Linked DNA regions of Homo sapiens: regions 1, 3 and 4 are each linked to region 2. The links come from fine-mapping of genetic effects on gene expression. A gene starts in region 2. Each other region holds a variant in brackets. All regions are shown on one strand. Distances are between the middles of the regions.

Region 1 (7,948 bases), 210 kb before region 2:
TGTATTTCTTCTGCTTTTTCTGTTTGCTCTTCTCTTCCACCACCACCTACCTCTTGGCTGATTAATGGTTTTGTTTTTCCTCTTCTTCTAGTTTTTTCTTCTTAGAATAACTATTCTATGTCTCTATAAGAATATCTATTCTTTTGGTGGTTACCTTAGTTATTCTGAGGTACATACTAAATAAAATTTAAGATTAATGAATTTCTAAGTTCTTTCAGATAGACCTTAGAATGTTTTAGATCAGCATCTTCAAATTGGAGTATTTATGTGTATGCATTCTGCAAGGTGTATGTGGATTTGTTTTAAGGAAATACATTTCCAAATCTCCTTTTTTTTTTTTTTGAGACAGTCTTGCTGTCACCTAGGGTGTAGTGTGGTGGCGTGATCTTGGCTCACTACAACCTCCACCTCCCAGATTCAAGTGATTCTCTTGCCTCAGCCTCCTGAGTAGCTGGGATTACAGGTGTCCACCACCACACCTGGCTAATTTTTTTTGTATTTTTAGTGGAGACGGGGTTTTGCCACGTTGGCCAGGCTGGTCTCGAACTCCTGGCTTTATGTGAATTGCCTGCCTCAGCCTCCCAAAGTGCTGGGATTACAGGCATAAGCCACAGCGCCTGGCCCAAATCTCCTATATTTATATGCACTCTTTTCTAAAATTGATCTGCCTTGGGAACTCTCCTGCGATAAAGTTGCAGTTTCCTTTCCCACTTCTTTCATAATCTCCCTTTTCCTAACTCTTGTCTATCCTGAATCTAACGATAGTACATTGGCCTAGGTGTACAAACCTTTAAGCTACCAATAAAGCTTTAATTAAAAAATATTGGCAGCTTGCTGGGTGCGGTGGCTCGCGCCTGTAATCCCAGCACTTTGGGACGCCGAGGCGGGCGGATCATGAGATCAAGAGATCGAGACGATCCTGGCCAACATGGTGAAACCCTGTCTCTACTAAAAATACAAAAATTAGTCGGGCGTCGTGGTGCAAGCCTGTAGTCCCAGCTACTCAGGAGGCTGAGGCAGGAGAATCACTTGAACCCAGGAGGTAGAGGCTGCAGTGAGCTGAGATCGCACCACTGCACTCCAGCCCGGGAGACAGAGCGAGACTCTGTCTCAAAAATATATATATATTTGCAGCCGAGTATAGTGGCTTACCCCTGTAATCCCAGCCTTCGGGAGGCAGAGGCAGGAGGATTGCTTGAGCCAGGAGTTGAGACCAATCTGGGAAACATAGTGAGACCCCGTCTCTACCAAAAAAAAAATAAACAAAAATTAGCTGGGTGCAGTGGTGTGTGCCTGTAGTCCCAGATACTTGGGAGGCTAAGGCAGTAGGATTAAGTGAGCCAGGGAGGTTGAGGCTGCAGTGAGCCATGATTGCACCCCTGTACTTCAGCCTGGGCAACAGAGCGAGACCCCCTTGCCCCCAAAATATGTATAATACACACATATAACATATATATGTATATATGTAACACACACATATAACATATATATGTATATATGTAACACACATATAACATATGTATATATGTAACACACACATATAACATATGTATATATGTAATACACACATGTAACATATATATGTCTGTATATATAGTTAAACAAAAATATTATATAAAATATATACACGCTAGATTTTCTCTTAAAAAAATTTTACATTTTTTTACACTGTTTTTTCTTTCGTTCTTTGTGGTTTGTGTGTGTGTGTGTGTGTGTGTATGCAGCAAAGCGAAACAGTGATATTGGGATTGCAGCAAATGAAAGTGAATCATTTATTGCAGGGCACCAAGCAAGGAGAATCAGGCAGCTCATGCTTAAGATCCAAACTTCCTGATGGCTTGTAAGCAAAGGTTTTTAAAAGCAGGGGAAAATTTCAGGAAAGGAGAAGTTACAGGCAAAATTGTAAATGAATACATGGAGATTATACATTGGTTTGGCCTTAGAAGATGGAATATCTCGAAGCAGGGTTAGAGGGTGGTGCTTAGAGGTCCTAGGTAGATTCAAAGATTTTCTGATTTGTAGTTGGTTGAGGAGGAGAAGCTTTCTTTAAAAAGCTGGGGTCAGCAGCAGAAGATGTGAGCACTGCCTTGTGGGTGTGACTTCCTCCAGGCCTCTCAGGAAGAACTTCAGGACAAAGAATGGTAGTCAAAGTGCAGTCCTCAGTTTGCCCCTTAGCTGAGGTCTACGTGCCAGCGGATCCATTTGGTGGGAGTTCTGAAAAACTCAGGGACATATGTTAAGTTGTTACGTAGGGAACCAACACCTTGTGACTCTAACTTCCTTGGCTATTGTTTGAAGCTACTGTTAACTTTCTTTTCTTTTCTTTTTTTTCTTTTTTTTTTTGAGACGGAGGAGTCTCGCTCTGTCGCCCAGGCTGGAGTGCAGTGGCGTGATCTCGGCTCACTGCAAGCTTTGCCTCCTGGGTTCACGCCATTCTCCTGCCTCAGCCTCCCAAGTAGCTGGGACTACAGGAGCCCGCCACCAGGCCCGGCTAATTTTTTGTATTTTTAGTAGAGATGGGGTTTCACCGTGTTAGCCAGGATGGTCTCAATCTCCTGACCTCGTGATCCGCCCGCCTCGACCTCCCAAAGTGCTGGGATTACAGGCGTGAGCCACCGCGCCCGGACATTTTTTTTTTTTTTTTTGAGAGGGAGTTTCACACTTCATGCCCAGGCTAGAGTGCAATGGTGCAATCTCGGCTCACCGCACTGTCCGCCTCCCGAGTTCAAGTGATTCTCCTTCCTCAGCCTCCTGAGTAGCTGGGATTACAGGTATGCGCCACCACACCTGGCTAATTTTTTGTATTTTTAGTAGAGACAGGGTTTCACCATTTTTGTCAGGCTGGTCTCGAACTCCTGACCTCAGGTGATCCACCTGCCTCGGCCTCCCAAAGTGCTGGTATTACAGGCGTGAGCCACCGCACCTGGCCTATATTTGCATTTCTAAGGGACTAAGTGGGAAGTGGGGAACCAGGGGAATGAGAAAAGAAGGGAGAGAAACAAACTATCTCTTAGAAAAATGAGGGGCACTTGGTTACAATTCCTCACTCAAATCAGAGGTTAAGAGTTCATATGTGTCACCAGGAGCTTGTCACCAACAAGCTGGGTTCTTGGCTGCCAGAACCAAGCCACTTCTACTGACTTTGGCTGATAGATGCAGAAGCACTTGTTCTTTTAACAAAGGCTTGTGGACGTAAGAAAGGCTCAGTGTCACTTTCCAGATAACCCAAAGAAATATTTATTCCTGGCTCTGAGCAGGTGGCAGAAGTGGAAGAAGCTGAGATGTGGCTGTGAGTCCTGACTTCACTGCTGTCCAGCGGAAAGAGTCTGAGCAGTCTAAACCCGAGGTTTCGCCAGTGTGAAATGGGGCTAATTATATAGACATATGGGTTTTACAAAGTTTTGACAAATCAGAACTTTTGTTTTATATGCTGGGTTGAAATCAAGGACCTGCTGGGTCTGTTCCTGCTACTTGTGGTTGGGTGGGGGAACAGAGGATAGAGAAGAAACTGTTCATCTCAGGTTGGAACGTGCCAGGTCTTCAGCCTTCCAGTGGCTTTTTAAAAAAACATTTTTATTTATTTATTTTTGAGACAGAGTATTGCTCTGTTGCCCAGGCTGGAGTGAAGTGGTGCAGTCTCGGCTCACTGCAGCCTCCGCCTCCCAGGTTCAAGAGATTCTCATTCCTCAACTTCCCGAGTAGCTTGGATTACAGGCATGTCCACCACAGCCAGCTAATTTTTTTTTTTTTTTTGAAATGGAGTCTCACTCTGTTGCCCAGGCTGGAGTGCAGTAGCGTGACCTCAGCTCACTGCAACCTCTGCCTCCTGGGTTCAAGGGATTCTCCTGCCTCAGCCTCCCCTGTAGCTAGGACTACAGGCGTGTGCCACCATGCCTGCTAATTTTTGTATTTTTAGTAGAGACAGGGTTTCACCATGTTGGTCAGGCTGGTCTCGAACTCCTGAGCTTAGGTGATCCGCCCACCTCGGCCTCCCAAAGTGCTGGGATTACAGGTGTGAGCCACTGTGCCTGGCCTTTTTTTGTGTTTTTAGTAGAGACGGAGTTTCGCCATGTTGGCCAGGCTGGTCTCGAACCCCCGACCTCAGGTGATCACTTCAGCCTCCCAAAGTGCTGGGATTACAAGCATGAGCCACCAAGCCTCGCATATCCAGTGGCTTTTGATGGCTGAAGTGCAAGTCACACCCCCTCTCTGAATTGCACCAGGCCTACAATTCACCAGATTTGCCAGGCTGGGTGGAAGGATATGTAAATCTGACTCAATTCACAGCCTCTCTTAACACTTCAATCAAAATTGCATCTAATTGAGGTTCATTCATAAACCTCATTGACGTAAACAACTGCAAACATGGAGGAGCCCTCCCCAAAGCTTGATAATTACTTCACGATGAAAACTCAGCTGTCAGAACATCATTGTTGCTATGACAACTATGAGAGAAGCTGGTTGCCCAGGGTTACCCATGTTACCAGATGTCACTGGTGCTTGAGTGTTAGCTTCAAATGAGCCTCAGGAGCATAATGAGAAAAGGCAATGAGAACTATATAAATGGGTCTGAATAAGAGAA[C/T]GTCTTTTTTTTTTTTTTTTTTAATCTTAAACCCCAATAGATTCAGGAAGTATCTATCTCATTACAGGACAATTGAGTTATATCTTGGAACCAGGGAGTCCTAAAATGACCTATCCTCTAAAAGGCCTTTCTTTCTCTTTTTAAAATTCTTTGTTAAATTTTTAATAAGTAATACACATATGTGCTTCAAGCTTTAAAAAATACAAAAGGCGGCCAGGTGTAGTGGCTCCCACCTGTAAACCCAGCACTTTGGGAGGCTGAGGCAGAAGGATCACTTGAGGCCAGGAGTTCAAGACCAGCCTGGGCAACCTAGTGAGACCCTGTCTCTTCAAAACTAAAAATAAAGAAATTACTCTCTGGTGCTTCAAGCAACATCTCTGGAGAGTCGTGTTGTGTGAATTGGTTTGTATACATTAGTATGTGTATGTATTCACACATTCATATACACTCAGGATACAGTTGGCCTAATTATCATTGGGGCCATAGGTAAAACTTATGAAGAATGTTCTCATGCTGAATTGTAATTTTCTTTTACCTGTAAAGTAAAATTTAGATCAATCCCATGTCTGTGTTTATTTTGAATATCATAGATATGCTGTACATTTAAAGAGGCAATGCTACTGGGATTATGTAGGTTCTAACTCATTTTAACAAGGGCACTGTCAGGCCTCTAAGCCCAAGCTAAGCCATCATAACCCCTGTGACCTGCATGTATACATCCAGATGACCTGAAGCAACTGAAGAACCACAAAAGAAGCAAAATAGGCAGTTCCTGCCTTAACTGATGACATTCCACCCTTGTGATTTGTTCCTGCTCCACCCTAACTGAACAACTGACCTCGTGACATTCCTTCTCCTGGACTGAGTCTCAGGAGCTCCCCACCAAGCACCTGGTGACCCCTGCCCCTGCCCACAAGAGAAAAACCCCCTTTAACTGTAATTTTCCACTACCTACCCAAATCCTATAAAACTGGCCCACCCCATCTCCCTTTGCTGACTCCTTTTTTGGACTCAGTCGGCCTGCACCCAGATGATTAAAAGGCTTTATTGCTCACACAAAGCCTGTTTGGTGGTCTCTTTACACGGACGTGCGTAACCAGTACCTGACCTGCGTAAGATAACTTGAGGCCAGGCGTGGTGGCTCATGCCTGTAATCCCAGCACTTTGGGAGGCTGAGGCGGGCAGATCACCTGAGGTTGGGAGTTTGAGACCAGCCCGACCAACATGGAGAAACCCCATCTCTACTAAAAATATAAAAAATTAGCCAAGCGTGGTGGTGCATGTCTGTAATCCCAGCTACTCGGGAGGCTGAGACAGGAGAATCACCTGAACCCAGGATGCGGAGGTTGTGGTGAGCCGAGATCACACAATTGCACTCCAGCATGGGCAACAGGAGTGAAACTCCATCTCAAAAAAAAAAAAAAAAAGACTTGAATATTGTATTTCTTAGGACTATACTAATATTCTTCTCACAAAAGGTCTATAAAATATTATTGCTGAAAAGTATTTTGTATCAAAATGTTTGCAGGCTGGGAGCGGTGGCTCACACCTGTAATCCCAGCACTTTGGGAGGCCAAGGCAGGCAGATCACTTGAAGTCGGGAGTTTGAGACCAGCCTGACCAACATGGAGAAACCTCATCTCTACCAAAAATACAAAATTAGCGGGGTGTGGTGGTGCATGCCTGTAATCTCAGCTACTCAGGAGGCTGAGGCAGGAGGATCACTTGAACTTGGGAAGCAGAGGTTGCAGTGAGCCGAGATCGTGCCATTGCACCATTGCACTCTAGCCTGGGCAACAAGAGAGAGACACCATCTAAAAAAAAAAAAAAAAAAAAGCTTCTCCCTAACCTGTATTGATATTCACTTGAATTATTATTTTCTAAAATTAAGAGCCCTATGACTACCTGTAAATCTTTTCACATATCATTTAAAAGTTTGTATTATTATTATTGATTTACAGCTTAATTATTATTTTTTCTTTACAGGGATGCCATTGATGTGCATGCTTTTATGTTTTTCAGAAAAGGGTATGTTTGGATGAAAGTAAAAAAAAATAAAGTAAAATCTTTCACTGTGAAAAAAAAAATTGCAAGGGTGTAGTGGCACATGTCTGTAGTGCCAGCACCTGGGGAGGCTGAGGTGGGAGGATCACTGGAGCCCAGCAGTTCGAGGCTGCAGTGAGCCATGATCATGCGACTGCACTCCAGCCTGGGTGACAGAGTGAGACTCTGTCTCAAAAAAAAAAAAAAGCCAAAGGTATATGGGGAAGTTCTTTTCTCCATCCTTACCCTACCGCACATATGCCCACTTCCTATCTTGCCCCAAAGGTATTTTTGTGCCTATACAAATCAATACAAAATATATTTTTCCTCTGCTTTTTGCGTAAAACAACATATACATGGAAGAATAATATATTATGACATTATATATAATAAAATATATTATGACATATATAATAAAATATGACATTATATATAATATCTTATGACATTATATATAATAAAATATATTGTGACATTATATATAATAAAATATATTGACATTATATATAATAAAATATATTATGACATTATATATAATAAAATATATTGTGACATTATATATAATAAAATATATTGTGACATTATATATAATAAAATATATTGTGACATTATATGTAATAAAATATATTGTGACATTATATGTAATAAAATATATTGTGACATTATATGTAATAAAATATATTGTGACATTATATGTAATAAAATATATTATGACATATATAATAAAATATATTATGACATTATATATAATAAAATATGTTATATGATGAAATATGATAAAATATATGATAAAATATACTATATGATAAAATATATGATAAAATATATATTATATATATTACATATAATATAACATAATATATTACATATAATATAATATAATATATTACATATAATATAATATATTACATATAATATATAATAATATATATCACATATAATATAATATATAATAATATAATATATCACATATAATATAATATATAATAATATAATATATCATATAATATAATATATAATAATATAATATATCACATATAATATAATATATAATAATATAATATATCACATATAATATATAATAATATAATATATCACATATAATATAATATATAATATAATATATCACATATAATATAATATATAATATAATATATTACATATAATATAATATATAATAATATATTATTATATTACATATAATAATATATTATTATTATATTTATTTATTTATTTATTTACTCTGTTGCTAGGCTGGACTGCAGTGGCATGATCTCAGCTCCTGGGGTCAAGCGATTCTTGTGCCTCAGCCTCCTGAGTAGC
Region 2 (7,948 bases):
TTACATTCTGAGGTGCTGGGTGGACATGAATTATTTCGGGCAACCATTCAGCCCATTGCGGTCTCTCTGCCTTCGGACTCCTCTTTCTACCTGTCCATGCCATGGACCCTGTGGGAGTCATTTTTTTTAACCTTCCTGTAGTGGAACCACCCCACCCCTGCTTTCAAGCCCTTCAAGGACTCCCCACTGCCAACAGAATAAAGTCTTATCTCTTTAGCTCAACTTATGGAGACTCACCATAGTCTGGCCCCTATGATCTTTTCTACATTCCATTTCTCCATTTCTCCTACACACTCCCTACCATCCCTGGGAAAGGTCTTCTATGTTGTTGAACATGCTGTGGATGCTCTTTTCTCCTTCCTCCTTCTGTCTATTGCTGAGACGCTCTTTTTCTCGAACACCCGTGTCATATATCTTTCCTTGTTCATGAGGACGTTTCTAGCCAGCCCATGTCAAAGGGCTCACCTCTCTCCACAGACCAACCCTAGCCCACACGGTGCACCATTCCTCAGTCTGTAGTGTGGCTGTCCTCTACTGGTGACATTTCCATTTTCCATTTCCATTTTACCCAGGGGCAAGCCTGTGTGCTATACTTCTTTGGGTCCTTGGTTTTGACAATGGTGTTCGGAACAGGTGGCTTCATGGTCAATGATTTTGTATGCTGCTGCTGGTGTGAGCATGCTGAATTGCTCCATGCCTGCAGCTCCCTCTAAAACTGATGGAGAGCCCTGTGCTGAGATGAAATGGGGGGAAAGGAGAAATTTGTTGCCACTTTGAGAGTCAAAGGCAGTGGTCTTTCCAAGGAAGAGTGAACTAGCAGAATCACTGCAGGAGAAGCAAATTCTGGAGGCTGGATGCCAAGAGGTGCTGTAAGAAAAGTTGTAAAGATATATGTGGGGGAAACCACTGCTCCCATCCCCCTTGGGAGACAATTGGTAAACAATATAGTTGGCAAAGGATAGGGACTGGGAGGGAAGTAAAAGAGGAGACAGAGTACAATGAACAGAATAGATGCCAATGGCCTTATCAGCTTTAACAGATGATCTGAAAACTTTAAAGTAACAAGGAAGTTTTTATTCCCATAATTGTTAGTAGTGTCTTTTGCTAGCTCCTCCGATGTGACAGTGATTGACCATTGGCAGCTGGGTCTTCAAACTCTCTTCTAAAATGTTGCATCTCTATGGGGACACATGAGGAACTTAGTTCTTCTATCTGGAAGTAGGTGTCCTCTAAGAGTTCTTGTGTTGTGTACTCTGTATCCTTTTTTTTTTTTTTTGGACTATGTCTCAGTTGCATCAAAGCCCCATTAACATTGCCCTTTGGGATCAAAAAGTAGTCCACCCGAGAAGAAAGAGTAGAGTTTTAGAGAACTGGGGTGAGAATTCTGGGCAGATGGCCAAGGTGTGGGCTCCAGGCTGAGCTTGCTGACACATGACATTGTATGTTTCAGGTACTGGGACAAGTTTTCAATGTCAAAATCTTTGAAGCCACCAGGGCCTTTTTTGTTTTTGTTTTTTGGCTAGGTCTTGGCAGTACTCCTTCATATAGTAGTAGGTTCAGAAACTCAGGCTAAGGAAAGCATCCAGAAAACATTGTCTGCCTCTGCAACAGTTTGTGGATAGCTTGTAATTGTAGTTCTGATCTTGTCAATCTGTCTTATAACTCTAAATGTGTGGTCTCACCTGGCTAGATACAGAAAATACCTATCTTCTTATAGAAGCAGGCAATCCTCAACCCCATTAAAAAAGTATGGTTTCTTGGACATTCCATCTAATAGGAATGCCAGTTTGCCTCCTGATATGTTGCCAGTCTGGCCATTTCAGCAGTCACTATTCAGCACTAGAGGAGGACTTCAGTAAAAGTTCCTTTGTCAGTAAGTCTTCCACGCAACATATTTGTTTCCAGGTCCTAATGGCAATTCCTCAGGATCTGGAGAAAAAAAAAAAAAAAAAAAAAGAAAAGGATCAACTCTCACGTTTGAGTTTGTCCCATTCATCTACATAAAGACTATCTATCAGTTTGAAGTGTCTTTTTGAGAATCAGAAAGGGGAGAGGATATAGGGGGCAAAGGATGTATTCTTTGAGATCCTGCTCTTAAGCAGTGATTCTTCTCTAGCACTCCTTATTTCTAGAATTTTCTAGCCATCTCTAACAAAAGCAAAGTGCAAAGAGCATTTAATACAAACCAAAACATGAAATGATCTTTTGATAGTTCAGTGTTGTGGCTGTGACTTGGAATTTTTCACTACATTTAAAAAAAAAAAAGCCACATATGCCCGGGTAGTCTCTGCATCAAGTCTGATACCATTGCTCCGACGTTATGAGGCTGAAGCAGTTGTGGCTGATTGATGTCACTCTTCTAGCCATCTCCTATTTCCACAGAGAGAGGCCGGGTTAATCCAACTCCAGTCTAACTTCGGAGGCATCAAGGATTCTAGGCAGCATCTCCCGTGTTTCTTTTTCCAAGTGAATTCCTGGAGGAAAACAATGAGGTCCATGTGTCTTTGCATCCCCAGGGACCAGCTCAGTAATGGGCGTATAAGAACACGCTGAAAAAAATTGTTTTGTTTTTGAACGACAGCGATTTAAGAGTAGTAAGGTCCTCGTAAATATAGGACATTGTACTCGTGTTTTTCTTCCGAGCATACAAATATTTGCAATGAGGTTGCACCGCAGACTCCACAGCCATTGTGGCACCTGGGGCTCTGTGACTTGGGAGGCAGAGGAGATGGAATGCCGGTGAGAAGAAGGAGATTGTGGTGTGAATGTGAGGGATGAGGGTGAATTAGCTTCCTACGGCGGCTGTTACAAGTTTACCACAAGATAAATGAGTTAAAACAGTACAGATTTATTATCTCACAGTTCTGGAAGACAGAAGTTCAAACTACTGGCAAAGTTCAAAGTGTTGGCAAGGCTGTGCTCCTCAGGAGGCTCTAGAGGAGAACCTTTTTCTTGCCTTTTCCTGTTTCTAGGGGCCACCGGCATCCTTCGGCTCATGGCCTCTTCCTCCATCTTAAAAGCCAGCTTCTGCAAATTCGTCTCTAATTCTGACACTACTTCTCTTGCCTCCCTCTCTCACTTATAGGGGTCCCTGTGATGACAGTAAGCTCACCCTGATAATCGAGGCTAATCTCCCCATCTTAGGGTTAGCCTATTAGCAACCTAAATTCCACCGGCAACTTTAATTCCCCCCTTGCCATGCACCGTGACATATTCACAGGTTCTGGGGAGGAGGGCATGAGCATCTTTGTCGGGGCATTGTTCTGTCCATCACAGAGAAGCACTCAGAGATTCCGGACTCCAGTATCCTCATTGTACACTTGAGGAAGCTTGGGCTCAGAGGCTTTATGTTAATTCCAACAGTTTTTGCAACAGGAGGAGGAGAATATCTGTCCAGGAGCCCTAATCAAGACTCAGCAGGAAGCTGGTGGCTTCCTTTCCTTCCTTCTTTTGCTTCCTTCCTGTTCTTCCTGTGCTTCCTTTCAGTTCTTCCTTCTACATATGGGGCCCATCACATTCCCACTGACTCAGATGCTGAGGGGCCAGACTGAAGGGACAGTGGCCATTGCATCAAGTCAGAGAACGGATCTGACCCATCTAGTAGAAGCTTATTGTTTTGGCAGAAGCACAAGCTCTTAGAGGTGCAGCTGCAGGGTGTGACCTATTGGGGACATTGAGCTCAGTGACCATGGGCCCTGAGAGTCTGAAATCCTGGAATTTCTCCCAAAACGAAGTCCATGTAGGGAAGCCAAAGTGTGAGTCTTACCCGGCTGGTTTACAACTGACTGACATTTGCTGCCTGGGCAGCTGTTGTGGGTGCCTGGAAACCCTATTGGACTAGGACTGGCCCCGGCAAAAAACAAGTGTTATAGCTGCCCAGTGTCCTCTGAGTGGATGCTGGTGATTCTGGTATGGAGCCCAGATGTAAGGCAGCAGGTGGTCCAGAAGGCACCAGAAGAGGTCTCCTGTCAAAGTCAGGGCCAGAGAAGAAGGCACAGGGAACCTACTGCACGAGACTTTCACTTGCAACGAGCAACCCATGATGAGGAGGGAGGATTCCTGGGGGCATTGAGTCCCCCAGACACAAGGACCCAAGACCTTCTTGCTTGGAAAGTGAATTCCTCAGAATTCCGAGATGATGCCAGTCTTGGAGGAAGATGACATGAGGACCCAAAACCTTCTTGCTTGGAAAGTGAATTCCTGAGAATTCCGAGATGATGCCAGTCTTGGAGAAAGATGACATGAGGACCCAAAACCTTCTTGCTTGGAAAGTGAATTCCTCAAAACTCCACAAAGACTCCAGTCTTGGAGGAAGATGACATGAGGACCCAAAACCTTCTTGCTTGGAAAGTGAATTCCTCAGAACTCCACGAAGACTCCAGTCTTGGAGGAAGACGAGGTGTTGAGAGATAGCTGGGATCCCTGAGGAAGGCAGCCCCAGTCTCCGGTGGAGAATTAAGAGGGGCCCAAGCAGATGGTTGGTGGTGGAAACGTCACCTCAGTATAGTACTATGGAGTTTCCTTTCACCCCCAACAGCCGACGGTTTCCAGGGGCGAAGAGTGAAAATTGAAGCAAGGTGTCTACTGTCCAGGTGAGAGCCACATCCTATGGCTGAGGGCCTGGGGGCATTGGGGACCACCAAGAATGAATACTTTTCCAATTAAGTGAAGTCTTTTGCACAATATTCCTGACCAATAGCTAATGTTCTCTGAGAGAGTCAGAGCTTCAGCCCGTGAAAGGGCGAGGGAACTTGTAGGAAGATATATGTGAGTACAGATGTGAGGAGAACATGCTGAAGTAGCCCAGGGGCTCAGTTGAAGCTGAGGACTGGTGGTTCTGGTGGCTGTGCTGGGGGTGGGGGTGGCAGTGTGAGATGGAAGTGAGTGAGCAGGTTGGGTGGGAAAGAGGAAGAAACCTAGGCTGTTGTGTTTCCGGAGAGACCCCGTATCAAGGAAGAATGGGGGGATTTATCAGCCGGGGGGATATTTATTTTGTGGAAATGACCCCTAAGTGGGTAGGGCTAAAACCCTGCTGGCCCGGGGGAGAAGAGAAGCCTAATGCACTTTGTCTAAACCCACAGCGGTAGACAAGGAGGCAGTGCGCCTGCCACCCCCAAGGAAGAGTCAGTTCAGAAGCACAGCAGCTGCTGGAAACCCAGGAGGTTTCCAGTTCGTTCCTGCTGGGACCTGGCAAGAACTGCACTGTCAAGGCTGCAAGAGGTGAGCCCCCTAGGGCACAGCGGAAAGGGCATCATGAAAAGGGGAGCCTGCTGGCTGTTGAATGGCTGGATAAGATGTTGTTCTGCGGCCACGTGGGGCTCTAATGCCTCTTAATTCTCTCAGAGGCTGGGCAGCAGCTGCCATGCATTTTGTTGGGACCTGGGCTCTTCTGCTAGGAGTTCCTGGGGGCAGGAAGGCTGCAAGTTGAGGTTTTCTTTTAGGAATTCATTGTTCATTTGGAAAATGTAAAACGACTCACCATGGCTCTTTCTTCTTCTCTTGAGGCTCCTGACGGCTTCTGACATGTACAGAATGGAATAAGAGAACCTAGCAGAAATGGAAGCAGAGGCAAGAGGTAAGGCTTTTGGCCTGAAAGAAGAATGGGGAAGCAGCCTCTAAGACCTTCTTCCTGGTAAATAAGAAGGGAAGTGCTCTGGGGAGCCCATCCTAGAAGCTTATGATTCCTGGGGAGTCTGGGGAAGAAGAGGCCCCTGAGTGACTGATGAGCTCATCTGTACTAGGCCAGGTTTGTGCTTCTTAGAGAGACCCTGGCGACCTCTCTGTGTTATTGTGAGAGGAATGAAGACTAGACCACGAAAATAGAAAGTACTTCAGGCTCTGGAGCAAGGAGAGTCCCTAAAAATACATAGTCAGTCCAGCATTTCTGGGAGCTGGAGAGGACCTGGCTGAAAAATCCCAGCAGTCAGCACTGCATTATCAAGTTACTTCTGGTTTACCGGAAACCAAGAACTTAAGACAAAATTGAATCCATTTGTCTTAGTCAACTGAAGCTGCTACAACAAATACCATAGATCAGGTAGCTTAAAATCAACAGAAATTTCTTTCTCCTAGTTCTAGAGGCTGTGAGTCTGAGATCAGGGTGCCTGCATGATCGGGTTCTGGTGAGGGCTCTCACAGTTTGCAGACTGCTAACTTCTTGTATCCTCACATAATGGGGAAAGGGTGAGGGAGCTCTCTGGGATCCCTTATAAAATGGCACTAATCCCATTCATGAGGGCTCTACCTTCGCGACCTAATCACCTCCCAAAGGCCCCACATCCTAATACCATAACATTAGAGACTAAGCTTCAGTGTATGAATTCTGGGAAGGCACAAACATTCAGTCCATAGCACAGTTTCTAGGTTTCTGTCCTAAACCACCAGTTAGGTTTCTGATTTTAATCCAGTTAGCACAGGCTTTTGATAATGACTGCTAGGTAATGTGTTTGTGTTTGAAAATGTGGTGTGACATCTTTTTTTTTTTTTTTCTGGAGACAAGGTCTGGCTCTGTCGCCCAGGCTGGAGTGCAGTGGTGTGATCATAACTCACTGCAGCCTCAAACTCCTGGGCTCAAGTGATTCTCCTGCTTCAGCCTCCCGAGTAGCTAGGCATGGGCCTCTATGCTTGGCTAATTAAAAAAAAAAAAGTAAAGAGATGGTTTCACTACGTTGCCAGAGCTGGTCTCAAACTCCTGGGCTTAAGGGCTCCTCCCGCCTTGGGCTCCCAAAGTGCTGGGACTACAGGCGCGAGCCACCATGCCTGGCCCATCATTATTTTAAAGTTATATGATATATCGAATTGACTATTACTCTAGAAGAATTTGAATATGATTTGTTAAGGTCTATAATGTAGCCTGTTACTACCTTAAACCTATGGACTCACTTAGGAAGTGAAGTCGTCATTGTTGGACCTATTCTTTTGATTAACAGAGGTATGTGTGAAGGGCAGGAGATGTCAATGTTTAAGGGCGTAGACCATGGAGGCCTGCTTCTGGGGTGAGGGGGTCTCTATTTTGCCTCTTAAGTGTGACTTGGGCAAGCTCCTTAGCTCTTCTGTCCCTTACTTCCCTCATATGCAAAATGGGGATAGAAATACTGTCTTCCTCATCAGGTTATTGTGAAGATTGAATGAGTTAATAGATGTACAATATACTGAACAGTGGTTGGCCTCAAATATTAGCTATTTTTATCTCTTACTTCACTTCTTAAAAATGTATTACATCAATGTGGATTTTGCAATTATTTTTTGAAGAAAAATTTAGTTATTTTCTCGTTCTGATAGCATGCCTAGGAAACAAGATGGTTTCTGTTTTGGGACAGACGATTCTGGAAAGATGTTAGAAATATAGTACATTGAAACAAAATCTTCCAGTATCATTAACCTACACCTAGTGTTAAGCCCTGTCTTTTTTACAATGTTGTGGTCTCAGTAAATGTTTGATAAATAACTTCAGTACATTCACCAAGTTATTTTTGGTTGTTTCTAGGTCTGGAGGCCAGGAAAATGTCAATGGAAAGCAGCTAGCATGAAGACCCCACAGTGTTCCTCCCTCTAGTAGTCTGGTATTATTTGGAGCTGAGATGCTCCCAATATGGTTGGGACATTTGTCCCCTCCAAATCTCATGTGAGAATTTGATCCCCCATTTTGGGGATGGGGTCTAATGGGAGGAGTTTGGGTCATGACGGGGGACCCCTCAAGAATGGCTTTGTGCCCTGCTCACCAGGAATGAATGAGCTCTCACTCTACTAGTTCACTGGAGAGCTGGTTTTTTAAAGAGCCTGGCGTCTCCCCAACTTTCTCTCTTGCTCCCCCTTCTCACTGTGTGATATACCTGCTCCCCTTTGCCATCCATCATGAGTGGAAGCTTCTTGAAGCCTCCACCTAAAGCAGATGCCGACACTATGCTTCCTGCACAGCCTGCCATACCATGAGCCAATAAACCTGTTT
Region 3 (7,948 bases), 93 kb before region 2:
CAAGATTCCAGCTCTTGCCTTCTGACTTTAAATACGTGCACTCAACTCCTGTTGCTTGCTATAAACTACGGCAGTAGGTACTTATCCATTCAGTCCAGCAACATTTATTGAGCACTTACTGTGTGCCAGATACATTTCTGGTTGATGAAGAAATAGCCAATGAACAAAACAGACACAACTCCTGATTTGATGGACATTACGTGTGTGTGTGTGTGTGTGTGTGTTTTGAGAGACGTATAAACAAACAAGTTACACTAACTTACTCGTGGTTGGATTTGGACTGTTTCTGGAGAGAAGAGGAAGGACTTAGTAATGGGGGGATTGTAGGGGGACCCCTAGGTTCCTGCCTCCGCCAAGTGCAGTGTGGTGGCCAGCAGAGCGTAGGAGCTCTGGAGGTAGGGCAGGTTTTGGGGAACGATGAAGAATCTTGTGTGGGACATGCTGGGTACCTGAGAACCCAGGGAGAGGGGCCAGAGTGAGAAAAGAACTCAGCAGGAAGCCCTGGGGACTGAGTTAAAAGGGAGAGGAGCCAGCTCCCGAGAGAGGGGACAGAGAGGTCAGAGGGAAGATAGAAAACTGGAGACCTCCAAGGCAGGAAGCCCTGGCATCATCAAATGCCACTTAGAGGTTCAGGGAGGGCAAAAGGGAGACACACAAAGTTGTAGGCTCTCCCCTCCCGCTCCCCCTCCCTCCCTCCCATTCCCCCTCCCGTTCCCCCTCCCTCCCTCCCTCCCTCCCTCCCTTCCTTCCTTCCTTCCTTCCTTCCCCTCTCCTCTTCCCCTCTCTCTCTCTTTCTCTCTCCCTCTCTCCCTCTTGGTTTCTCTTTTCTTTTCTTTCTCAGTGAGAAACCAGAATGGGAAATATCTACTGGAGGGTGAAGATACAGGAGGAAGCAGAGGTAATGCGTGAAGCAGAGCCTCAGAGGAGGTGGAGGAGGGTTGAACTCAGGGCCAACGTGTGGGGGCTGGTCTCAAACAGGAGGGTGTATCCCTGAGGCTGGAGAGGAGTGAGAAAAAAATGGTCAGGAACGCAGAGCAGCGCCTCTCGGGAAGTGGCTGCCAACGTTACTTGTGAGGTGGAAATGTCCAAAGTGGGTCTAGGATGCATCAACACAGGGGTGAAGGTTTGGGCTCCACACTGTGGGGAACAGGAGAAACAGCCATCCACCCGGGGCCATCCCCAAACTGACCTTTTCTGTGTCCCTAACCCTCAGAGGCCCGAGCTCTGCCTGGGAATTAAAACACAAATTCCTGCAAACGTGAGGTCTAACTCCACTGTCACGGAGAGGCTGACGATGCCAGCTGTGGGAATTGCAGTGGGGACAGGTATGGAGAGGATGTTTCTGGACATGGGAGTGACTGCCACTTGGAGCTGCAGGCAGAAGCAACAGCTGGTGTGTTTTCCTGAGCAGGTTGGGGGATGGCTCAAAATCAATATTTACTTTACAAACAGCCATCCGGAGGGTGAACCGCCCTGCCTCTCACCCTCAGCTTTTCTGGGGAAAGATGTCTGTGGCCTGCTTAGCTCTGCCCTGCTGGTCTTCGCCTCTCGATCCAAAGCAACTTTGATGTGTATGGGAAAAGTACTGCACTGTGAAAGGAACTGTGGACAGATGGTCCACCTGAGCTCAAAGGTGGGGTCCCTCCACGTATGCACCTCAGGACTTTCCATCCTGTGGGAATCTCCTAAAAAGTTGCTCCATGGGTGGCACTCTCTGAGCAGCACGATTGGTGGGGAGGGCTCTGTCAGCAATATTATGTCGTCACTGACGTCTGCAGGCTCTCCTAGGGGACACTTCAGAAACTTTCATAGAAATATTTCTCTTTGGCAACAGCTCGCTGTTTCCATGGTTTGACGATACTAGCCAGCTGTAAAGTAGGCCAGCACGGGAGAGGGCGGCCCTGGGGACACGGGCTGCATGGCACGCTCATTTCCAACCCTGGGGCAAGTCAGATAACCTCATTAGGTCTCCATTTCCTAATCTTCAAAATGGAACAACAGTGTGAGCCTCAGTGGCCTGGTGTTGTGAGAATGAGGATTAAAGAACTGCAAATTTTTGAGTTTTTTTGGTGAATAATTGTGAAGTCTTTTGGAGGACATATTTCAGAAACAAATGAAATAATAAAGCAGACCTTAAATGTATTGATATAAATTTTGCATAGGTCCAGTAACCTTTTCTTTGCTACGCTTAGTGATCTACTGATTTAAAAAGAGTCCTCTCATATGATACTGACAGAACATTTTTAACCTATTTTTTTTTAACCAGCAATAAGTTTACATAGTTCAACATTCCAAATGCATGAAGGGATACAGTTACTATTCCCTTTCCTGCCCCTGTTCCAGCCATCCAGAGTTCCCCTGCCTAGGTAGGGTGACCAACTGGTCCTGCTTTGTCTAGGACTTTCTGTTTTAGCTCTGAAATGTCCTCATCCCAGGAGACTCCTGAAACCCCAGCAGACTGGGATGGTTGGTCACCCTCTGCCATAGGCAACCAACATTATGAGTCTGTCATGTGTCCTTCTGAAGATATTTTGACAACAGCAATGTTAGTATTAAAAAAAATCCTTTTAGGTAAAGAAATAAAATGTCTTTCTCATAAAACACTAATGCATGAGGCTGGGCATGGTGGCTCATGCCTGTAATCCTAGCACTTCAGGAGGCTGAGGCGAGTGGATCACCTGAGGTCAGGAGTTTGAGACTAGCCTGGCCAACATGGTGAAACCCCGTCTTTACTAAAAATACAACAATTAGTCGGGCGTGGTTGCGGGTGCCTGTAGTCCCAGCTACTTGGGAGGCTGAGGCAGGAGAATCGCTTGAACCCGGGAGGCGGAGGCTGCAGTGAGCCGAGATCACACCACTGCACTCCAGCCTGGGTGACAGAGCAAGACTCCGTCCCAAATACAAACAAACAAACAAAAAACCAAACTAATGCATGACATCAAGGGGATAAGGGAGCCCACAATAACATGGAGGCCCAAATCTTATCATCAAACATAATTGTTTTTCCCATAATTGTTCTTACGATTGTAATTTCCAGCTCCAGAATTGCTATCCTTCTGCAAAGGAAAACTCCCTCTCAGTCTTGGGAAAAAGACTCCTGTAAACGTTAACAATCTGTGGCCCCATTTCTCATAGCCGTGGTTGACCGTAGACTCCATTATCAATTTGTTTATAATTTATTTTTGTGGAGTTAAAAAAAGCATTTGTGTACTTGGGATTTGGATTTCATAAGTATGCTTATTTGGCAAGTTATCTTTTAGATTTCCCTGTGCAAATGTAACTGATTTGGGAAAGCCCCATTTCAGAGAAAGCATAACACAGCCCTTATCACGTGTGAACTGAGAAAGACATCGGAAAGCCTTTTCCAGGCTAAAAATAGACCTAGAACGAGGTGTATTTTAGCTTCGGGACTTTCGCA[A/C]ACTTTCTGGCAAACTAGCACTTTATTGTTTATGTATAAGGGGCTGACGTTCCTTTTAAATGTTCTAGCTTCAGGCTATCTTACTTTTGTGCAAAAAAGGATGAATTATTTATAAAAAGAGGCAAAAATATCACATGATAACACCCTCGTTTCTGGCGGGGAGTAAAATGAGCTGCAGCTGGTGCTGTGTCAGCTCCACAGGCGAGGTGCAGAGAGCAAGCGGAGGATGGGCTTGATCCTCTGATCCCTTGAGAGGGCCTGATGTCTGAGATGCAGCCTGTCCCCCTCCAGGATGGAGGGAGAGACCTTTAATTCTCATTCTCTCTCTCACTCATCACTCATTTTCTCTCTCTCTCTTTTTCTGTCTCCCTCTCTCTGGCAAACTTGGGAAGGCAAAGTATGGAGACCTTTTATAAGCTCAAGTGTGCGCAGAAGCTGGTTTTATGGAATTATTTGTATACACTAATTCTGCCAGCCTCAGTTTCTTCATCTGTGACAGGAGGTGATAACCGTATTTTCTCCTTAGGCCTGATGTAAAGCGCCTGACGCTAAGTAAATGCTCAATAAATATTAGCTAGTATTCAAGCTTGCCTGGCTGCTCAGAGACACAGAGGGGCGGGGTGAGCGAGTGGGCTGAGGAAGGACTGGAGAATATAAAGGCAAGGGGCTGCATTACCTGAGGGTAGAGAGGTCAGCTGAGCTGACCGGCTCTTCCTGGTTTGTCTGGGACTAACCTGCTTTTAAAAACACAGTCCTGCATCCTTGGAAATCTCTCAGACCCAGGCAAAACCAGAGGGTTGGCCGCTGTCCTGAGTTAGGTTAGGATGAATTGTCCCTCGTTTATTTTTCCTCGGTCTCAACTGAATGCTGTGTTACTGTACCAGGGTTCCATCATGTGTGTGCACAGGCAGGGACAAGAGAGCCACCTGACACACCCTGTGTCGCTCTGCCTGACTCTGGCCACCCCACCTGTCTGTGTTGTGACACAGTATTGTAACAAAACTGCCAGGCCCAGGGTTCCCCTGCCTACTCTGCCTTCCACCCAGTGGGGTTGTGCGGAGCCTCCCAGCAGGCCCAGGAAAGGTGGGAGGAAATTGTGCAAAGACTTAAGACAAACGAGGGAAATCCAATTCCTTTTATTATGTGGATGATAACAACTGTGTGTAAAGGAGTCTGTCTGAGAAGTGGATTTGATCATGACATTTACTAGTATTTGGGGCCTGCGTTTTACACGAGTGCTTGCGGCCTGCACGCAGGAGGTTTCACTGGGGTTGCAGAGGGTTCTCCCACTACTCAGCTCTACTTTTCCAAACGTACTCTCTGATATTCCCAGCACCGTGGAGCGAGACGGGGTATTTCTAATGGAGCAATGCCTCACTGTCTTTGGAGACAACCCCAGTCTCGCTTAGGAGTTGGAAAGACTGAGCTCGGGGTCTGTGCCCTGGTGCTGGTCTGGCCCCAGACACTGTAGGACCCCGCAGGTCTTCATTTCCTTGCATGTCAACCGGGGAGGCTATGATGGGGTACAGAGGGTTGCTGTGAGGACTAATGAGACACATGTGAGGTGAGTGTGGCACACAGTGGGCATGCAGCCAACATGAGTTCTTGCATCTGAACGTCTCTAGCAATGATTGTGGAATATACTCAGGACGGATCCTCTACTCCTTCTCATCCTTTTCTCTTGGGTCTGGAAATTTTATTTACTAGTGATTAGCTCAACAGTCAACATGTCTTGTCTGCAAATCAGAATGGCTGTGCTTAAGGCTAAAGGCCACATGCAATATATTTATTCCTTTCCCGAAAGTGTCCAGCCCGTAACAGGGGCACAAAACGTATCTGTTGCTGTGGGAAGAAACCTTCCAGATGACGAGTGCTAGTGACGTCTAGGAAGAAATGAAAGATGGGCTGGAACACTCCGTGGGGTTGCTCGCTGGGTTTCTGGCTGAGTCGTCTTGGACTTCCCCTCCACTCCTTTGCTGTGGGTCCCCCTCAGGTAGATGTGTAGTCAGCAGCTTCTCCAAATTGGAACAGAAATAACTCTCCAAGGGCTGAAGGGGATTTCCTTACCAGGCCAGACCTTTCTTCCACTGCCCATGCACATGTGCCTCTCTCAGGTCCCTAAATTGACAAGCCTCTGTTTCCCCCTCTGTAAAATAGAGATGCTAATGCCTATTTCCCATAGGGTTGAAAGGTATGTGTGATTATGCCTGCAAAGCTCAATGCATGGTGGACGTTGTTATCTGGAATTTCCTTACCCCTCTTCAGTCTACCCTTAAAAATTATTTTCCCTACACTGTGTCAGCAGTATGGGGTGCAGCGGGAACTGAGAGTCTGCCTCTCACATTCTCCTTACGCATGCTCCAGAGTTTGATCTCTGGTCATCTTTGTAAGCCCTTTGCCTGAGGGTATGTTAAAAACAAAGGTGAGTCATGTCATATTCATTTTAGGAAATAAAATAGTTAAGATTAATATATGTACTGCATGTAAGAAAACTGCCAAATTAGTACATATTTATTACAGAGCCTAGAGTCTGTTGCAGTAAAGTCTGATGCAGTAAAGACAACACAAATGCCCCATGATCACACATCTAGCGATAATTGCTATTAACATGTTGTTATATTTCCGGGGCTGGGCACTGTGGCTCATGCCTGTAATCCCAGCACTTTGGGAGGCCTAAGTGGGCGGATCACTTGAGCCTAGAAATTCAAGACCAGCCTGGCCAACATGGTGAAAGCCCGTCTGTACTAAAAATACAAAAAATTAGCCAAGTGTGGTGGTGCGTGCCTGTAATCTCAGCTACCTGGGAGGCTGAGGCACGAGGATGGCTTGAACCTGGGAGGTGGAGGTAGCAATGAGCCACAATCGGCCACTGCACTCCAGCCTGGGCGACAGTGAGAGACTCCATCTCAAACCAAACCAAACCAAACCGAACCATGTTGGTATATTTTCTTCCAATATATTTTCTTGTGTCCTTCTGTTTTAAGTCAGCTGCTAGTCACAGAGAATGGAGAATGTCTGTCTTCCAAACAGTTAGGTTACTTCACTGAGACCTATTTCCTCTGGGCTACATATGTATAAAACAGCAAATAGGTGAGAGGTGTCCAAAGGGTGTTCCTGCTCTGAATTCCAAGGTGGTTTAGGCATTATTAACTCAGGGATCTGGTTTTGCTCCATAGCTGTTGTCTCCTGGAGGTGTCCCAGCCAGGGCATCAGAAACTCCCTCCCTCAGATATTGGTGAACCTTGAAGGCTGGAAAAGTGATTTATAGTTAAATGCCATTTCAGTGATCCTTCTTCATTGCTCTGATATTTTATTAATAATTAACATTTGCTGAGCACTTAACCATTGTTTAGATATTTTGCTAAGCATGTTCCAAGTATTAACTTATTTGGTCCTTGAAATACTCTCATGAGATAGGTTCTCTTATTAGCCCTATTTTACAGATGAGGAAACTGAGGCATAAGGTTTAAACAAGATCACACAGTTAGTGGTGTACTGGAATTAAATGACTTGTATTTATTGTGCATATATGAATGTATGTACAGTATATAGAAAATATGTATAAATTTCTCTCTTCTACCTATATGCCCATCTATCACCTCTCTATCGTTTATCTCTAACATCTATCTATCTATCTTTATATCTCTCTCATCAATATCTACCCACCTTGGCTGGGCATGGTGGCTCATCCCTGTAATCCCAGCACTTTGGGAGGCCAAGACAGGAGGATCACTTGAGTCCAGGAGTTCAAGACCAGCCTGGGCAACACAGCGAGACCCTGTCTTGTATTTATGTATTTATTTTTAAGAAACTATCTACTTCCTTTTTTGATCTAATTATTTCTGAAGAATTTTCCTCTGTGTTTGAAGTGGCCGTTTACTAGTTTTGGCTTTGGCTACCCGCATCCAGATGTCCTTATTGTGGTGGACTCCTCAGTGGTGTGATCCTTGGTGGAGGAGGACCCCTGCTCTTCCCGTTTGGAAGATGAAGAGGGTGGGATATGCCCTCTCCCCTTCTCGGACAGTGCCACGTGACTGGGGTAGCCAATCAGGTGCTGCGTTTTAGGACCTTTAATTTCAAGCCAGTGATGCAACTCACAGGAAGTTAAGGAGACACTCTTCCAGCCCCGGCGCCGTGGCTCACGCTTGTAATCCCAGCACTTTGGGAGGCCCAGGCGGGCAGATCACTTGAGGTCACGAGTTTGAGACCAGTCTGGCCAACATGGTGAAACCCTCTCTCTACCAAAAAATACAAAAAGTGGTGGCACGTGCCTGTAGTCCCAGCTACTCAGGAAGCTGATCTGAGGTGGGAGAATCGCTTGAACCTGGGAGGCAGAGGTTGCAGTGAGCCGAGATCCGAGATCACGCCACTGCACTCCAGCCTGGACAACAGAGTGAGTGAGACCTTGTCTCAAAAAAATAAAATAAAATAAAATAAATAAATAAATAAATAAATAAATAAATAAAAATTCACTCTTTGAGCCGTGGTCACAGCAGTGGCATCTACTGTCTGGTGGCTTTAGGAGTCAGT
Region 4 (7,948 bases), 440 kb before region 2:
GACTAAGATTCCACAGAGCAGAAAACCTCAAAGAGTTAAGAGATGACTTCTGTCACCACTGAAGAGATCAGTGATCCTGAGCACCTGCAACAGGCTAAGGATCTGGGTCTTTCCCAGGCAGGGACCACTGCTGGAGGAACAGACAACCCGCAGAGTGGGTTTTCAGATTATTTTCTGCAAAGATTATAGCAATTCACACTCTTAGCAATCGGTGTGTATTTCCCTTTTTAATTTTTGATGATCTGAATGGGTAAAAAAATTGATTAACCTATTGTTGCTTTAATTTATATTTTCCTAGTAGCAAGGTTGGTCATCTCGTCATATTGGCCATTTGAATTTTCTCTTTTACATGAACTGTCTAATTCATAACTTTTGCTCATTTTGTTTTAAAACAATGGATAAGCTCCACAGAGTTTTTTTCTAATCAAATTTCCAAAATTTTAATTCAATCTGGATTCCTTTGAGTTTTGTTTCAAAACTGCAATTTTTTTTTTTTTTTGAGACGGTCTCACTCTATTGCCCAGACTGGAGCGCAGTGGTGCAATCCTGGCTCACCGCAACCTCCACCTCCCAGGCCTAAGAAATTCTCCCACCTCAGCCTCCCAAGTAGCTGGGACTACTACGCCACTACGCCTAGCTAATTTTCACACTTTTGTAGAGACTGAGTCTATGTTGCCCAGACTGTACAAATTTTTTAATAGACAATTAAAAATTGTATGTATTTATTGATTACAATGCAATGTTTTAAAATACATATACATTATGGAATGGCTCAATCAGCCTAATTAACATATGCACTACCTCACTTATATAATACATTGTTATTAACTACAGTCACCATGCTGTACAACAGATTTCTCAACTTATTCCTCATATCTAACTGAAATTTTATCTCCGTTGTTAATATCTTCCCAATTCTCCCCTGCCCTCCGACCCTGGTAACTACTGTTCTACTCCCTGCTTCTATGAGTTTGACTTTTTCAGATTCCATACGTAAGTGAGAATATGCAGTTTTTCTCTTTCTGTGCCTCACTTATTTCACTTAACATAAATGCCCTCCAGATTCAACCATGTTGTTGCGAACGACAGGATTTCCTTCTTTTTAAAGCTGAATACTATTCGATTGTGTATATACACATTTTCTTTATCCACTCACCTGCTGATGGGCACTTAGGATGATTACGTATCTTGGCTATCGTAAATAATGCTGCAATGAATATGTAAGTGCAGGCATTTCTTCAACATAACTGATTTCATTTTCGTTGAATATATACCTGGTAAAGGGACTGCTGCATCATATGGTAGTTCTGTTTGTGATTTTTTTGAGGCATCTCTGCATTGTTTTCCATAATGGCTGCACTAACTTACATTCCCAGCAACAATGCGCTGGGTTCCCTTTCCTCCACATCCTTGGCAACCCTTATCTTTTGACTTTTTGGTACTAGCCATCCTAACAAGTGTGAAGTGATATCTCATCGTGCTTTTAATTTGCATTTCCCTGATGATCAGTCATGCTGAGCATTTTTTCATATACCTGTTGGCAATCTGTATGTCTTCTTTTGAGAAATGTCTATTCAGGTCCTTTACCCACTTTTTAATCGAGCATTTGCCTTCCTGCTACATAAGGAGCTGAGTTCCTTACACAGTTTGGATATTATCCCCTTATCAGATGTACGGTTGGTAATATTTTCTCCCCTTACATAAACTGTCTCTTCACTCTGTTGATTGCCCATTTTTCTATTCAGTTATTGTTTTGTTCTCAATTTACAAGAGCTCTTTCAAGATTAGCAGTTTTAACCATTTCACTGTCATACAGAATGTAAACTTCTCCCTCAGTCTTTTTCGTTTGTTCATGTTAGCTGGGTTCTTCTTAATCGGAAGTTGAAATAATAGTCCTGGGGGCCAGACGCAGTGGTTCACACCTGTAATCCCAACATTTTGGGAGGCTGAGGTGGGCAGATCACATGGCGCCGGGAGTTTGAGACCAGCCTGGCCAACATGGCAAAACCCTGTCTCTACTAAAAATTTAAAAATTAGCTCAGCGTGGTGGTGCACATCTGTAATCCCAGCTACTCGGGAGGCTGAGGGACGAGAATCGCCTGAACCCAGGAGGTGGAGGTTGCAGTGAGCCGAGATTGTGCCACTGCACTCCAGCCTGGGTGACAGAGCAAGACTCAGTCTCAAACAAACAAAAAAAAAAATTGGGGGATCTTTATTTCATGCTTTCTCTCATTAAGAAAAGAGAGGACAATAAAGTGTTAGAAGATAATAAAGCACAGAAGTCTAGCCAGTGTCTTTGGAAAATGAAACGGCTGTGTGAATTTTTTATCTTTTGGCACCTCTTTTAAAAACTCCACTTAATGACCTACCTGCATTACTGAAGTGTCTCTTGTTGGGGTGATTGTAGTTATCTCTTGGGTGTCCATGCATCTGTGGGCCATGGGAGGCAGGCAAATGAGGCTTCTGAGGGTGAAGGTTGTGTGAGGTATGGGACTGAGATATCAGAGAGTCCCGGCTGGAGCCTGAGGCCTCTGGACGAAATGGTTTCTTACCCCCAGTCACGTCGTCTTTCTTCTTTTGCTCCTAAAGAGTAAAAGGAAACCAAAGAAGCTCAAGATCCCAGGCTTAATTCCCCAGAGAAGAATAAAGGCTATCACCTCTAAACAGCTCCTTCTTGTCCTTCTTAAACTTCTGAACTGGCGTTTACTACCTCCTAACAAAAAAAAGGCTCATAAATTCCACTGTTAGGCTATTTGCTGGGGGAACTCAGTGGAATTTATGCTGAGTTTGACCATTACTGCTAAGTACCTGCAAGAACACATGCATAGACTGCTAGATGTCACTGTACAGGGTATGGTGTAGGCGCCCAGGCTGGCGGCACTCTCAGAGGATCATCCTGGACCATGTAAAACCAAGACTACCAACTTTCCAAGGCTAACCACAACAAACAACCCTCGACTGTCCAGTGGGAACTAACTCCTATGCCCAAGTCATCAAGCTAAATATCTGAATGTTGGAGTAACATTACTCCTTATCACACAAGTCAAATGTTTGATATAAAAAAAATCACACAATAAAAAAAATAAAGTGACCCAAATCCTAACCAGCAAGGGAATTACTGTTAATAATTTGGCACGTATTTTTCTAAGCTTTTTTTTGTAGTTATATTTTAAACAAAAATATTTGGTATTCATTTTTCACTTCATGTATTGTGAAAATCTTTCCATGTAAATACTTATTTCTACAATATTATGTTTAATAACTGATTAATACTCCCCAATATGGATATATCATGAACTACTGAATGTTTTTGTTTTCTGTATTTTTTTTTTTTTTTTTTTTTTTTTTTTGAGACAGAGTCTCACTCTGTCGCAGGCATTCAGTGATGCCATCTCAGCTCACTGCTACCTCCACCTCCTGGTCTCATGCGATCCTCCCACTTCAGCCTCCTGAGGGGCTGGGGCTACAGGCATGTGCCACCACACCCAGCTAATATTTGTAGTTTATGTAGAGATGAGGCTTCATCACGTTGGCCAGGCTGGTCTCGAACTCTCGGCCTCAAGTGATCCACCCGCCTCAGCCTCCCAAAGTGCTGGGATTACAGGCACGAGCCACCGCGCCTAGCCACATTGAATGTATTTCTTACTGTTGGGCTTCCAAGCCATTTCCATTATAAACATGTTTAAATCTCTATCTCCTTCTCAAAACTAAATTCCTGGAAGCAAAACTGCATGCTTTAGTCTTTTAATAAATCTTGCTGAATTCTCCTCCAGAAAGGTTGTGACAATGTATACTCCCACTAGTAGGATACCACTGTTTTTGTTATTCAGCTTATACTGTTTTGTTATTCATTCTGATCCCTAAATGAATGAAGTCTTTCATGATTATGTGTCCAACTTCAGACCCTCTTCCTAATTTTCACTCCCTTCTAAAGGGCCTTTCCTAACTATTTCATTCCCTCCTGGGGCCTTTCCGGACTATCCATTTATAGACTTTTTATAATGCTTATTAGTATATGATTCCTGTATGTTACTGCTATAACATATTCTTCCATGTAAAATTAAAT[C/T]ATCAACTACTTGAGGGTGCTGCTTCACAGGCCAACACAGCACTGGGCACAGCATAACAAATACTCCTGAGTGCTTCCCTGTCCCCAGCACCATTCTATTCCATTCTATGTGCTGAGAACACAGCAGTAGATGAGAGACATAAAATCTCTGTCTTCATGGAGCTGACGCATTAGTGGAGGTGGTATTTAATGCTCACAGATTGAACTCAATGTCCAACTTGGGTACAGCCCATGTGGCAAGTCAGCAGATCTGCAAATGGGCACACCCACACAAGGAGCACTGCCTCTGCAGCCTCCTCCATGTCACTTCTGCACCCATCCCCCTATTCCAAAGGAGAGGCAACTTCTGAGCACCTCTCACAAGTGAGTAGCAGGACCCCTTCCATACAAAAGCTGGAAGGACACCAAATAGATGGTCCAGAAAAGAAGAGAAAAAGTATTTTCTGCCCACCACCCTATTACTTCCTAGGAGCCACATTTATAAGCTACTGACATGTACAGAAGAAAAATGCAAATGGAAGAAAAAACCTGGTGAACAAATGATTTTAGGACCTAAAAACACAGGGTAAACACTCTTTGTCAGAATTTCAACCATGTTAGGCTCCAATACATTGGCTATTTCACCCATCTGGTCTTATTGTTTGACTATTAGCACCAGCAATAACCCATGATTCTGTGATCATCTCCCCATGGAAAAACAAAAATTAAGAGATTTTTCTGTGGAATTGGTATTTGTTTGTATGAATTAGGACTGAATTTGTACTTTACCTCTTCTTCTTGAGACCTTTTCTTATGAGCCATCTTGTATAACTTATGCAGTTTTCGAGCATCAAATTCTGTAAACTTGGAAACAAAAATCCATAGGTTCCTAAAAAGAAAAATGAACAGTTCTGGTGAATTATAGAATTAGAAAAGCAATTTTTTATGATCTTCATGGATGGCAAGCTATTAAATTTTGCTGTGGTATACTCCCTAAGCATAGAAATTAAGCTACAGAAATATTATTTCAGGTATTTGCATTAATAATACAGTAAGTCCTAACTTAATGTTGTCGATAGGTTCTTGGAAATTGCAACTTTAAGGGAAACAAAATCAATTTTTTTTCTCATCAATGTTATAATGAAACAAAGCTGAAGGAAACAACGTTATGTGAGGACTTACCGTACACCTTTACATGGTTCTGCCAAAAGAGTCTGACAGAGGGATTTAGAGACTAAGGCTCTATCAATACCTAGAACTCCTCCAAATTTCTATCAATGACACCCCAGACTCCAGTCCTTTTAAGTTTTCCTTCACTTTCTGGACTCTACCACAAATCCATCAGCACCACCATCTCCCAGGTTGTGGCCTCCATTCAGTTGGTCATCTCTGTGTTGCTGCCCCTCCTTCCTCCCAGTTGTCGCCACCACAACCTTTCATTTCTTCCTTAAAACTCTCAGTGGCTTTTTCCCTCCAATTCCATTATGTTCACCCTAGCATGGTGTTACTGCGCAACAGGGGAATGATATGATGAGACAGGTGTTTAGAAAGAGTAAGCACAGGTAGTCAGAGTGAGCCAGATAAAGGAGTCTCATATCTTCTCAAACTTCCTAACAGGTAGTTTCACCATGGCTTGCTGCTGACAGGACCACCTGTACAGGCTCCCTAACTAGTAAGCCTGCTGCATCAGGTGAAGAGCCATTTACCTTCCTGTCTAAAGCCTCCTATAAAGAGCTTCAGTCTTTTTAGCAAACTGTCTTTAAATCCTGAACACCACCCAGTCCCCTCCCTGTCCCACTTTCAAGCCTTTGCTGAAGCCTGAGAACTCTGTTCATCTCAGCAATTCGACTCAGCTCATGTATGCTCAGTTCAAGTGCACCTGCCTGCCTCTCAGAAGACCTTCCTTCCTGACTACTCTTCACGCACTTCCTTCTCAACACTTCCACTCTATCTGGGCTTGCATTTGCTGCCTCATGACGAACAGTTTCTCCGAGGGCTTACCTTGTACTACTTTTTTGACTTGTAAAGGGCGAGGACCTTATAAACTACTGCTAGCCAAGATCACAGTGCCTGGCACATTTAAAAATGGGTCTGTTCACTGGGATGACCTTTTGCTATCTTCTAATCAGTGTTAAATTTAAAAAGAAGAAAAAAAAAAAAGGCCAGATGCCGCTAGGTAAAGAAAGAAGTTGGTAACAGTGTTAAGCGGAAAAAAAAGTACCATTTTGAAAATTAAATCTTTTCTTTATAGGTGTGAAGCATGCTGTGGACACCATCATGCAGAAGTTTTCTTAAATCCACTTTTCACTCAAAAACCAGTCCTCTGAGATTGGACATATTATACAAAGATAATCACATTATCCATGAACTATATACAAGTTCAAAGTAACTGTGGTTATGTACAAACAAGCACATGTACCCTCTGAGTCTAAAATAAAATAAAAACGAAGTAACTGTGATTAATGGAAAGAGATTTAATGTTACAATTGCCTTTTAGAATTTCCAGCCATGGCTGGGCGCAGTGGCTCATGCCTGTAATCCCAGCATTTCGGGAGGTCAAGGCGGGCGGATCACCTAAGGTCAGGAGCTCGAGACCAGCCTGGTCAACATGATGAAACCCCATCTCTACTAAAAATACAAAAATTAGCCAGGCGTGATGGCAGGCACCTGTAATCCCAGCTACTTAGGAGGCTGAAGCAGGAGAATCTCTTGAACCAGGGAGGTGGAGGTTGCAGTGCCAAGATTGTGCCACTGCACTTCAGCCTGGGCGATAGAGTGAAAGAGTCAGACTCTGTCTCATTTAAAAAAAAAAAAAAAAAAAAATTTCCAGTCATGTTTTCTTAAAATATCCAAAGTGGACAGTGGATATATATCCAGCAATCCCACTACTGGGTATCCACCCAGGGGAAAAGAAGTCATTATATGAAAAAGGCACTTGCACTTACATGTTTATAGCAGCATAATCTGCAATTGCAAAAACATGGAACCAGCCTAAATGCCCATCAACCAACAAGTATATAAAGAAAATGTGGTACATACATACCATGGAATACTACTCAGCCATAAAAAGGAATAAAATAATGGCATTTGCAGCAACCTCAATGGAATTGGAGACCATTATTCTAAGTGAAATAACTCAGGAATGGAAAACCAAACATTGGATGCAAAGGCATAAAAATGATATAACGGACTCTGGGGGGAAGGGGGCTGAGGGATAGAAGATGACACACTGGGTGCAGTGTGCACTGCTCGGGTGATGGGTGCACCAAAATCTCGGAAATCACCACTAAAGAGCTTATCCATGTCACCAAACACCACCTGTTTCCCTAAAACTATTGAAATCTTTTAAAAAAGTTTCAGTGGCTATATAAAGGAACATTTATAAACCATGATGCCTTAAACACTGAAGTTCTAGATTAACTTAATCCAAATTACTACTTTAATTACTAAAAAAGCATATGAGAATAGAGAACTCATAGTTCTTGCGGTTTTAATCTTTGTGTCACCATGTGTTGGTACAGAACCAACCAATTAGTTGTATTAGATACAGTAATATCTGAATATCTGGATATCAACCTGAGATGGGTAAAGTAGTTAAGACCAGATGATTTTTGCCCCTTGTAGGCTTAAAGAAAATTTATTTCTGAGAATAGACCAGCAAATCCAGTAACACTATCTTTCTCTCATAAAATAAATTAATGACATCGTCCTACCCCTTCAAAAGGCTGGTCTCAGTGGAATGGCCTATTTCATGGAAAGGGAGTTAAAGCCTGCAGGTATATTGCCAATAGATGAGTTGTGCTGGGAGAAAGATTTCTTAGGTGGCTATGCCACCTTTTATTAAAAGAAAACAGAATCCACTCCCACACTCAGTCAAATCAAACTGGGCAGACGAGGCCAAAG

Alleles and levels. Alleles are on the strand shown, and positions count from the first base shown. SD is a standard deviation of normalised expression in the study named. Not every link is listed here.
For the expression in esophagus muscle of the gene that starts at base 3,515 in region 2, C is the low allele of the variant in region 3 and A is the other (moderate effect, 0.44 SD a copy in GTEx).

What was found. PIP is the estimated chance that this variant, and not a neighbour inherited with it, causes the effect. A credible set is the group of variants that fine-mapping cannot tell apart.
Region 1: its variant is the best candidate, but not a certain one, in a credible set for the expression of LINC00930 in whole blood (TOPMed, PIP 0.82).
Region 3: its variant is the best candidate, but not a certain one, in a credible set for the expression of LINC00930 in esophagus muscle (GTEx, PIP 0.73).
Region 4: its variant is the best candidate, but not a certain one, in a credible set for the expression of LINC00930 in sun-exposed skin (GTEx, PIP 0.66).

Annotation. Positions count from the first base shown.
Region 1 is chr15:92,777,451-92,785,398 of GRCh38, reverse strand. It overlaps LOC101926994 (a long non-coding RNA gene), which reads left to right. Exons shown (of 3, transcript XR_001751667.3): 3 at 5,173-5,333. Among named protein-coding and RNA genes, the nearest start is that of CHASERR, 100 kb to the left of the region's middle. The variant C/T (reference allele first, on the strand shown) is at 4,583.
Region 2 is chr15:92,567,830-92,575,777 of GRCh38, reverse strand. LINC00930 (long intergenic non-protein coding RNA 930) reads left to right here and starts at 3,515. Exons shown (of 4, transcript NR_021493.1): 1 at 3,515-4,592; 2 at 5,082-5,220; 3 at 5,505-5,575; 4 at 7,487-7,948.
Region 3 is chr15:92,660,848-92,668,795 of GRCh38, reverse strand. No RefSeq gene overlaps it. Among named protein-coding and RNA genes, the nearest start is that of FAM174B, 9.0 kb to the right of the region's middle. RefSeq lists enhancers at 3,910-4,409, 4,897-4,946, 5,327-5,446. The variant A/C (reference allele first, on the strand shown) is at 3,419.
Region 4 is chr15:93,009,331-93,017,278 of GRCh38, reverse strand. It overlaps CHD2 (chromodomain helicase DNA binding protein 2), which reads right to left. Exons shown (of 39, transcript NM_001271.4): 36 at 4,835-4,934; 37 at 2,370-2,583. Among named protein-coding and RNA genes, the nearest start is that of RGMA, 76 kb to the left of the region's middle. The variant C/T (reference allele first, on the strand shown) is at 4,067.